Regions from separate parts of the Homo sapiens genome. Here region 1 is linked to region 2. The links come from fine-mapping of genetic effects on gene expression. A gene starts in region 2. The other region holds a variant in brackets. All regions are shown on one strand. Distances are between the middles of the regions. Region 1 overlaps STX11 (syntaxin 11). Region 2 holds the start of STX11 (syntaxin 11).

Region 1 (5,315 bases), 36 kb after region 2:
GATAATGGCAGTACCTACTCATAGAATCTGTATGAAGACTAAAGAGGGTATCACATGAAAGATGCCTAGAAAATATCAGGCATATATAACATACGTTTATGTTCTCTGTCATTTACATCTTCTCTGAATTGCTTCACTGTCTTTGGGTAAGTAGATTTTTTGGTAGCTTAGAAATATATATATTAAGTATCTTAACCTCTTGTCTGTCATATATTATAATTTCTCCCCAGTTGGTGGTTTGTCTTTCAATTTTGTTCAAAGTGAGGAAACAGTTGAATATCAAGAAATTCAGACCAGGTGAAGGCATAGTTTTGGTCCAGGGTGGATCTTTTTTCTGCCTGTCAACCATACTGCTAGGAGAATCACCTTCCCCATCCGTGAGAAGGTCTGGTATTGATTATAGCCACCAGATATCAGAAATGGCACTTTAAGCAGCTTACATTGTTACATTAAAAATCACCATCATAGAATAAAACTTCTGCTTAATTTATGTAAATAATGATCATGGTAGATGAAAGGCCGTGGTTAATATTTCACCATTTTCCATTTACCACCAAATCCAACTTGTCAGCATTCCATTAGTGGTGATATAAAATTAATTACTTCAACTTGAAAGAAGCTTTTAATTTGAGACCAAGAACCCTGATAGATTGCGTAACCATTAAGTGTTACTACTTTTCCCCTCTTTGCTGCAAATTGTGTAGTAGAAAAAGAATCTTTCTCATCATGAAGTCTTGTGTATAAACACAAGATATTCCCTATATTAGCATATATACATGCTACTAAAAATGAAAGTTTTTCACTTCACTGAAAAGCAATATGAACATAGAGACTATTACTTTGCCTTACTAAGCAGAGGAATTACCAGAACCATCCTTGTAAAAACATGAACATTCTGCTTGAGCTGCCAACTTGTTTCAAAAAGCTATTAAAAGTGGGCAAACATTGCTGCTACATGATGAATGAATGGGAGTGTGTTGTAGTATTGCTACTAGGCCACGTATGATTGGAATTTTCCACATAAAAGCATTTTAAAAAGCAGTGTTATTTACGATGCTTATCATTAGGGAATGATATTGAGAAGAGGAGTAAGGAAACCTCAACTTCTAAATTTTACACTTAGATTTCTGTATTTTGTTGTCATTTTACTTCAAGCATGTTTTACTTTTACAACATCTTCAAGAGAAAAAAATTTAAATCATGATTTGCATGGTAACTGTTTTAAGAGTTGTTAGTGTGTACAGGAGGGGATGCTTCCCAGTGCCGAAATAGACACAAAATAGGCAACATTTAGATGTTGGCCCCAAAGCCTTGTAGATTATCCTCAATTAAAAATACTTAAGTTTGCAAGTCTTTCTTCTTCTTTTTTCTTTTTTTTTTTTTCTGTGTCTGTTTTAATTTGCAATGATTGGAAAACATAAAGCAATGAAAAGAGATGGTTTCCCAATGCAATCTAAAATTTTCACACACCAGGGCCTGTTGTGGGGTGGGGGGAGGGGGGAGGGATAGCATTAGGAGATATACCTAATGTAAATGATGAGTTAATGGGTGCAGCACACCAACATGGCACAGGTATACATATGTAACAAACCTGCACGTTGTGCACATGTACCCTAGAACTTAAAGTATAATAAAATATATATAAATAAATAAATAAATAAATAAAATTTTAAATTGCTCATTGAGTTCTGCGCGGCTATGATATTGAACTGCAGGTGCCTATAGGCCTTAAAACACAACTGTTTCATGTTGTTCAGTCATCTTATTTCTTTCCTTGTAAGCAAAATGTCAGAACATTTAGCTCCTTTAGTGCACTTATTGCCCACACCGAGGAATACAAAATTGGGACTGCTGAGTAAAATGTTTAAGTTTCAATCCCTTGAAGGCAAATATTTGACTCTCAATAGAGAAATTTAACTTCATTATCTCTACTTGCAGGCAAAATGAAAGACCGGCTAGCAGAACTTCTGGACTTGTCCAAGCAATATGACCAGCAGTTCCCAGACGGGGACGATGAGTTTGACTCGCCCCACGAGGACATCGTGTTCGAGACGGACCACATCCTGGAGTCCCTGTACCGAGACATCCGGGACATTCAGGATGAAAACCAGCTGCTGGTGGCCGACGTGAAGCGGCTGGGAAAGCAGAACGCCCGCTTCCTCACGTCCATGCGGCGCCTCAGCAGCATCAAGCGCGACACCAACTCCATCGCCAAGGCCATCAAGGCCCGGGGCGAGGTCATCCACTGCAAGCTGCGCGCCATGAAGGAGCTGAGCGAGGCGGCTGAGGCCCAGCACGGCCCGCACTCGGCAGTGGCGCGCATTTCGCGGGCGCAGTACAACGCGCTCACCCTCACCTTCCAGCGCGCCATGCACGACTACAACCAGGCCGAGATGAAGCAGCGCGACAACTGCAAGATCCGCATCCAGCGCCAGCTGGAGATCATGGGCAAGGAAGTCTCGGGCGACCAGATCGAGGACATGTTCGAGCAGGGTAAGTGGGACGTGTTTTCCGAGAACTTGCTGGCCGACGTGAAGGGCGCGCGGGCCGCCCTCAACGAGATCGAGAGCCGCCACCGCGAACTGCTGCGCCTGGAGAGCCGCATCCGCGACGTACACGAGCTCTTCTTGCAGATGGCGGTGCTGGTGGAGAAGCAGGCCGACACCCTGAACGTCATCGAGCTCAACGTACAAAAGACGGTCGACTACACCGGCCAGGCCAAGGCGCAGGTGCGGAAGGCCGTGCAGTACGAGGAGAAGAACCCCTGCCGG[A/G]CCCTCTGCTGCTTCTGCTGTCCCTGCCTCAAGTAGCAGGCCGGCCCGGGCCGCCACCGCCCATCCCAGACCATGGAGCGCGCTGGGAAGGACGCACCAAAGCCGGGAGCTCTGCCCTGCAGGGAGTTGCCCCAACCCTTTCCGGAACTCAGTCTTTAGAAAAGAAACGCCAGGTTCAAGAATTGCAAACCAGCCTGTGCTTGGAAAGATGGTTAGTTGATACCGTCCGATGATTCTTCAGTAAAGATAGATTCCCACAAAGTTGTGCAATGTCATTATATGACACCTTGCACTCTTACCGTCTTGACAGAAGCCAAGTAAGGAACTGAAGTTGTATCTGACTGTAGGGTGAATGTCTGAGGCCTGCCTCCTAATAAAGACTCAAGGAGGAAGTCAATTGGGCATCTGCTAATAGAATGAACTCATGATGGAAACTTCAGTTCATTTACTTTGTCCTGAAAATTCCCTGGTTCTGTTCCATTTTGAGCGAAATTGGCCTTGGGAAAAACCACGTTCTTCCTTTCCGATTCTTCATCCGGTCTACGCTATGCAATTCCTCCCCAAATATAGATCTTATTTCTGCTCATTTCCCCTACTTATTAAAATCACACCAAACACTTACTATTTTCTTATCTCTTTCACTTTTTAAATATCTTTCACCAGGTTATATTTTGGTATTATTTTTCCAAACATTTTTAAGCACTGAATATCGAACAAGCACTCAAATTGAAGTATCAGTCATGTTTTGTGTATTTTTCGCTGATAAAAATTATTTAACATTTATATTTTTACTTGATTACATATGCACATGTATGTAAATGTAAAATACTAATATTCACTAATATATGTACATAATGATCAATTGGTTTAACTTCTTTTATGTAAGTATGGTATATAAATTTCAAGACGAACACTTTTCTGGCTCTTGGTATTGGTTTGCTTGTTTTGAGTTTGTTTCACTCCAGTTTGCCCCTTCCTAGTCCAGTTTGGGTCAAACTTCATGTTAAACAACTCTGCATTGGTTATGGCGGTAGACATATGGCGGTAGAAAATGTATACGGAGCTAGAGACAACTAACATTCTTGGAAATACTGCTTTTGTTTTACTGTGGACCATTCCTTCCATGCATTGAAATGGAGAAATTCAAAGTAAAAGAATTCTGTTTTTCAAGCAAGCTTAATAAACATTACATTATACACATATTTTTATACATTTCTGGCTTGACCATTTAGTTTACTTTCTCAATTATTGTTAAAATTTTTCTTTTTCCTTTTTTTTTTTTTTTTTTTGAGATGGAGTCTCACTGTGTTGCCCAGGCTGGAGTGCAGTGGCAGGATCTTGGCTCATTGCAACCTCTGTCTCCCAGGTTCGAGCGATTCTCCTGACTCAGCCTCCTGAGAAGTTGGGACTCTGGGCGCGTGCCACAATGTCTGGCTAATTTTTTATGTTTTTAGTAAAGACGGTGTTTCACCGTGTTAGCCAGGATGGTCTTGATCTCCTGACCTCGTGATCCGCCCGCCTCAGCCTCCCATAGTGCTGGGATTACAGGTGTGAGCCACCATGCCTGGCCTTTTTTCCCCCCTTTTGAGACAGGGTCTCCCTTTGTCACCCAGGCTGAAGTGCAGTGGCATAATCATGGCTTACTGCAGCCTTAAACTCCCAGGCTCAAGTGATCCTCCCACCTCAGCCTACAAATAGCTGAGACTACAGATATGTGCCACCATGCCCGGCTAATTTTTGTATTTTCTGTAGAGACAGGGTTTGCCATGTGGCCCAGGCTGGTCTCAAACTTGTGAGCTTGAGCAATCCGCCCACCTTGGCCTCCCAAAGTGCTGAGATTACAGGCCTGAGCCACTGACCCTGGCCAAATTTTTTTTCTACTAGCTACTGAGGCTGCCACATCTGGATGGAACTGAGTGGAGGGGGAAAAGAATGAAAAACTCAAAAGAATTCCCATGAGGGTGTCTTGCTTTCTCTCCTGAGTTACAATACTTTAGCAAAATCATGAGGCTTTAGAGATATGGTGTAGTCTGCAAACTTCTTAATGCCCTTACCCACATTTACCATGTTTCCTGGCCTTCCTCTGTGTCAACTCTTAGCTCTTCCTAATCATTATTTAATACATGAGTGAGTTTAGTAGTGATCATATTTCTCAGGTCCTTTAGAAGCTGGAATTTTAAAAGAATTAGAAGGAGGAGTATGTGAATTCTTTGGAGCTCACTGCCTGACTTGCTTATGACCAGGAAAATCTATCCCCTGTATCTAATTTTAATTTCATGGTTAAATTTGAGAATTGTGGAAACCAAGTTCCACAAGGCTATTCTCATATTTCTCCCAATTTCTTTTTCAGCCAACTCCAAGGATATGTATCACCTTTGACTTAATTTGCTTTCTCTAAGGGAAAGGGGAAAAAATGTTCACATAGCTCCACTGCAATGTTTTTTATAATAGAGGAGAGATATTGTAAATAGAGACTGCCAGCCAGTTTCCACAAAAAAACGAAGAGTTCATAAATTTGACATGTTTGAACCCATAAAGCATTTT
Region 2 (5,381 bases):
ATTTCAGATTTCCCTATGATTACCATCTTACATTACATTCCTCACAACTAATTAATCAACCTTGATTCTTATTACTAATGAAAGTCCATGCTTTATTTAGATTTCCTTAGTTTTTCCCCAAGTCCTTTTTCTGTCCCAGGATCCCATCCAGGATACCACATTACATTTAGTTTTCACGTCTCCTGAGTTTCTTCTAGGCTGCGGCAGTTTTTCAGACTTTCCTTATTTTATTTTATTTTTTGTAGAGACAGCATCTGGCTATGTCGGCCAGATCAGGCCTCGAACTCCTGGCCTCAAGCAATCCTCTCGCTTCAGCCTCTCAAAGTGTACGGATTACAGGCGTGAGCCACGTCTGGACTGTACTTTCCTTACTTTTGATAACCTGACAACTTTGAGGAATATTGGTCAGGTATTTTGTAGGATGTTCCACTACTGGAATTTGTTTGATATTTTTCTCATTATGAGACTGAGGTTATGGTTTTCCAGGAGGGAGACCACACATGTAATATGCCACATTCATCACATCATATTGACTACATGCCATCAATGAGTCACGATTGTTGACGTTGGCTTAGAACATCTGGCTGGGGTAGTGTCTGTCGGCTTTCTCCATTGTAAACCTACTGTTTTTCCCTTTCCACATTGTACTATTTTGGAGGAAGTCACTGTGCACAGCCTAGGGTACATGATCTACATAAATTATTTGGAATTATTCTGTATAGGAGATTTGTCTCCTCTCCGCCTTTTATTTATTTATTCAATTATTTATTTATATCAGTGTAGACTCATGGATTTTTTTACTTTGGCTTGTAATCCAATACTACCTTGTTTAGTTTACTTCGTTGCTCAAATGGTTCCATCTTTGGCAACTGGGAGCTTTCAGGTGGTTCCTGTGTCTAAACATTCTGCCATCAAGGCAGGATTCGTTCTTTAGTTTTATTTTTTTTCTTCTCATTCAATTGAGACAGCGTCTCATTCTGTCGCCCAGGCTGGAGTACAGTGGCGCGATCTCGGCTCACTGCATCCTTGACCTCTCAGCCTCAAGTGATCCTCCCACCTTAGCCTCCCGAGCAGCTGGGATCACAGCGTGCGCCACCACGCCCAGTTAATTTTTTTATTTTTTGTAGAGATAGGCTTTCACCACATCGCTCAGGCTGGTCTCAAACTCCTGGGCTCAAGAGATCCTCCCCCTTCGGCCTCCCAAAGTGTTAGGAATACGCGCGTGAGCCACCGCGCCCGGCCCGATTTTTCCTTTTTTGAGTATCACTTCCTTACTTTTCAGCCTCAGCCTTGTTTTTCAAGGTGCTTTACCACCACCTGGCACAATCCACACTTTCTATTTATCCCTCCCCGTTAAAGTGCCGGGACCTGGAGGGTGGGTCTTGGCAGTATTTTTGAGCGCGGTGGGCACACAAGGGGACGCTCAGTTGATATCCAGAGAATGATGAGCCCGGCGGGTGTTGAGGCCGACTGGAGAGAGGTTGGTCGGCAGGGTTCTGGGAAGGCGGTGCTCGGCCTCCGTGTGACCGCAGGCTCCTCGCCCGCGTCCTCGAGGGTCCCAGGGATGCAGGACCTGCCGCAGCTTCCGCAGCCACACCCACGCTCAGAGACGGCTTCCAGCGTCCTCGCCGCGGCAACGCACCGGACTGCAAATGTCACCAGCGCAGCGGGGATTCCCGGGGGAAGTCCAGCGCGCTCCCTGCCCTGGGGACCAGAGGACGAGCGGAGGAAGTGTCTTGGGCGGCAAACATCCCACTCCCCGCGCCGGTCCGCGCAGCCCGCGGGAACGCCCCTGGGCTTGCGGGAGGGGCTGGAGCGCGTCCCCGGCTCCGGGCGGTCCCGAGCGCATGGACTCTGGGTGGGGCGGGAACCCGCGCTCTGTGAGCCGGCTGCCGCCGCGCCCCAGCGCTGTCATCCCGGGGCGGGGCCTGGTCCCCAGCTGTGGTCGCTTCCTAAGCGGCGGGGGCTGAGCCGGCGGCGCCCAGATGCGGCCGCGGCGGCGCGGAGCTCGGGCGGCCGTGGAGGAACTCAGCCTCGGCCGCAGGAGGCGCCGGGAGCGGAGCCGCCGGGAGTCGCGCAACAGGTTTCCTTCTCCATCGCTGCGCCCACAGGGGACGCGCGCCCTGCCGGGAGAGGGGCTTCTCGGTTCGCACTCTCGCTCCCAGTCCAGGTTTGTTTTTCTCTTCCTGAGCCCCCATTTCTCTTCCTGACTATTTTCCCCGTGCGCGGAGAGATCGGGGAGGGCGGGTCGGGGCGGGGGCACTGTCTAGGCTCGGGACCCGCGGCTGTGCCTTAGGTGGGATTTTGGATCTGGCGCAGGTCCTCACGCCGCCTCTGGGCACCTTCGGAAACACAGCATTGGGTTTCTCATATAAAGCAGAATGATTTTTTAAAATTACTTTTAATTTCAGAGGCTGAGGGACTTAGGATTTAGTGCTTCGTAAGAATTATTTTAGGGATACCTGTTGGTAGGCTGCCTTTATAAAGTGTCCACCCAAGACTACTTTTATTTTAAATCGAAAGGCTGGAGTGTTTTTTTATTATCACCTCTTCACTTCCTAGTAGGGTGACTGTGTCAAAAACACCAGAATGGGTACTTCTTGACTTGAACTTGGCGGTGTCACTCAGTAGCCAGGAAAGACGGAGAAATTGATAGAGCCTTCGAGGAGTCCCTTCGAAGCCCACGTAAGACTTTGTTTTAGAAACATGGAGAGAAGTAGTGGCAATGCCTGCGAGAGCCACGCCGTCCTGAGAGGGAATTCTGCCTTTTTCTAGACTCCGCTGACACCAGCTGAGATCTGTATTACTTCCTGTGGTTCTCACGCACTTGTTTCAGCCGTTTCTCAGCAGAGGGAGGAGCTGTTATTTACAGGTATCCAAAAATGAGTCACAGGGCTGCTCTCTTAATTGTGAGACTTTGTTAATGAACTTTTGAAAAGCGAGGCTTGCTTTAAAATGAGACTCTAGATGTGAAATGCCTGCCCTGCCAACCTGGGGCAGTGGTATGGGAAGTGACGATTGAGTTTTCAGTTTCCTAAGGCGCCTGATGTTACAACATGCCAGTAAAGGTCACTGGGCTGATCTAAGATAACCATTGAAATCATGTGCTTTGCCACAGATGCCCAAGAGAAAATTAATTTCATTATTCAATGACCATTTTGCTGTCATTTTCACTGCATGGGAGAAAGGTATCATTTAATGTGGTGATTGTAAGTAACTCTCTAAAATCAAAATATTTCAGACAGTTTGTGTTTACTAAATTGGTGCTAAAACCACATGATGATTTTTGAAGCGGGTGGGTCCCAGCGGGAGCAGAGAAATTTAAAAGTTGAAGCTGACAAGTCCTATTGCGGTGGGTAACAGCCCTTAGGAAGGGACTGCACACTATCTCAACACGGTAGAGAAGGGGACACCATCTCTACTGGAGCTGAGTTGAGCTGAATTCAGCCTCAAACAACAGTTACCAGGTACCTTCTCTGTGCCAGCCTCTTCCCTGAACCTTGCTTGTACAACCATGAATAATAGGATCCTGCCGGCAAGGTACTAGGGTAAATCTATACCCAGAGTGAAGTTTCTGTGCCAATATAACTCAATATGCTGGGTCCCAGTGTATTTAAAGAGTAGACTCAGCAGATTATCACCCCTAGATAATTGCGGTCACGATTAGTTGATAGTGTGACTTTTAAGAAATAGTGTGACTAATTAATAGTTTATTTAAATATGCTGGAAAATTCAATATAATGAGATAGGTGCTAGGGTAAATCTATACCCAGAGAAAAGTTTCTGTCCCAATATGACTGATGTTTCTGAAGATCTGGGATTTGGAATGGACTGGGTCATGGCTGGAAGAGCAAGGAAACTTTTGAGTTTAGTCATTTACTTGTCTTTGTAGGCAGCCTATTCTTCATTTGATACATGATTTAAAAATGTATGAATTTGAAAGGTATGGTTTTTAAAGTGCTTGAATGAACCATGTTTCATGTTATTTAATAACCATGTAAAACGAAATTCAGCTGATTATCACCCCTGGACAATTGCAGTCACCTTTAGTTAACAGCATGACTTTTAGGAAATGGTGTGACTAATTAATAGGTTGTTTTGTTTTGTTTTGTTTTTTGAGACAGAGTCTCACTCTGTTGCCCCAGGCTGGAGTGTGGTGGTGCAATCTTGGCTCACTGCAACCTCCACCTCCTGCGTTTAAGCAATTCTTGTGCTTCAGCGTCCCAAGTAGCTGGGACTACAGACACCCACCACAACACCCGGCTAATTTTTGTATTTTTAGTAGGGACAAGGTTCGGCCCTGTTGGCCAGGCTGGTCTCGAACTGCTGACCTCAGGTGATCTGCTTGCCTTGGCCTCCCAAAGTGCTGGGATTGCAGATGTGAGCCACCATGCCCTGCCTAATAGTTTATACATTGGTAACACTATATTGAAGCGAGTTTATGATCATTGTTTTTGTAGTTCAAATCAATGTTTTTTATCACATTATAGCCGTGTGAGCCAAAATGAATAAATCTACCGTATCACAGTTTACTGTTGCAATTGAAATCTGCTGAGATGCTTTTGAACTGGATGCCCAAGTATCAAGGTTTCCAAGTTTCCCCAGTTTGCTAAGATATCCAACTGGTAAAGGCAACAATGCTAAATTTCAGACAACTTTACCTTAATTTCCAAACTTTATTCCTCCTTTGAGAGCCCTAAAGTTACTTTTTCTATGAGAAAGAAAGGGTCGAGTTTGTCATTCAGCATTGTACTCCCTGAACTTGGCCCAGGCTTGTCTCATGATAAGTGTTAGAAAGTGTTTATTGATGGAATAATGAACCTTCACGTAGGAGGATGAATTGTCAGGCAAGTGGAATTGTCTGCTGTAGGTGACCCAGCAGAAGGAACAGCACCCATAGAGAAGTGAAACAGCACTGGACGTTCAGGAAACTCCAGCCTGTTTAGTGACGGCACAGAGGGAGGCCTACGGAGACAGGAAGGGCCAGATCACAAAGGCCCCATGAGGGTTTAATAGTACTGAAGCCTTTGAACAAGTGAATGATATTGTCAGGTATGTGTTTAAAAAATAATAACAAAACTTGGAATTTTAAAAATCTTAGATTAGATGAGAGTGACATTGACCCTAGGAAGACACCGTGGAAACTGTTGTCATATTGCAGATGGGACATTGAAGAAGGCCTGAATCGGGCAGTGACAATGCAGATGGGAAAAGAGGGAAGGGGCTGGTAGAGGTTTAATAGGTGGAACCCTGTCGGGTGTGTGTAATGAGGAGGTAGGAGCAGTTGAGATGACTCCCATGTTTCTAATGAATGACTAGGATAAGAATATCCTACTCGGTGGAAGAATAGGTTTGGGCTAAAGGGTGGTGAGGAGCTCACA

Evidence for each region. PIP is the estimated chance that this variant, and not a neighbour inherited with it, causes the effect. A credible set is the group of variants that fine-mapping cannot tell apart.
Region 1: its variant is the best candidate, but not a certain one, in a credible set for the expression of STX11 in whole blood (TOPMed, PIP 0.83).

The regions. Positions count from the first base shown.
Region 1 is chr6:144,184,685-144,189,999 of GRCh38, forward strand. STX11 (syntaxin 11) reads left to right here. Exons shown (of 2, transcript NM_003764.4): 2 at 1,939-5,315. The coding sequence starts at 1,944. The coding sequence ends at 2,807. Among named protein-coding and RNA genes, the nearest start is that of TRL-TAA1-1, 29 kb to the right of the region's middle. RefSeq lists an enhancer at 1,789-2,289. The variant A/G (reference allele first, on the strand shown) is at 2,772.
Region 2 is chr6:144,148,534-144,153,914 of GRCh38, forward strand. It overlaps STX11 (syntaxin 11), which reads left to right and starts at 1,984. Exons shown (of 2, transcript NM_003764.4): 1 at 1,984-2,170. RefSeq lists a silencer at 1,671-2,110.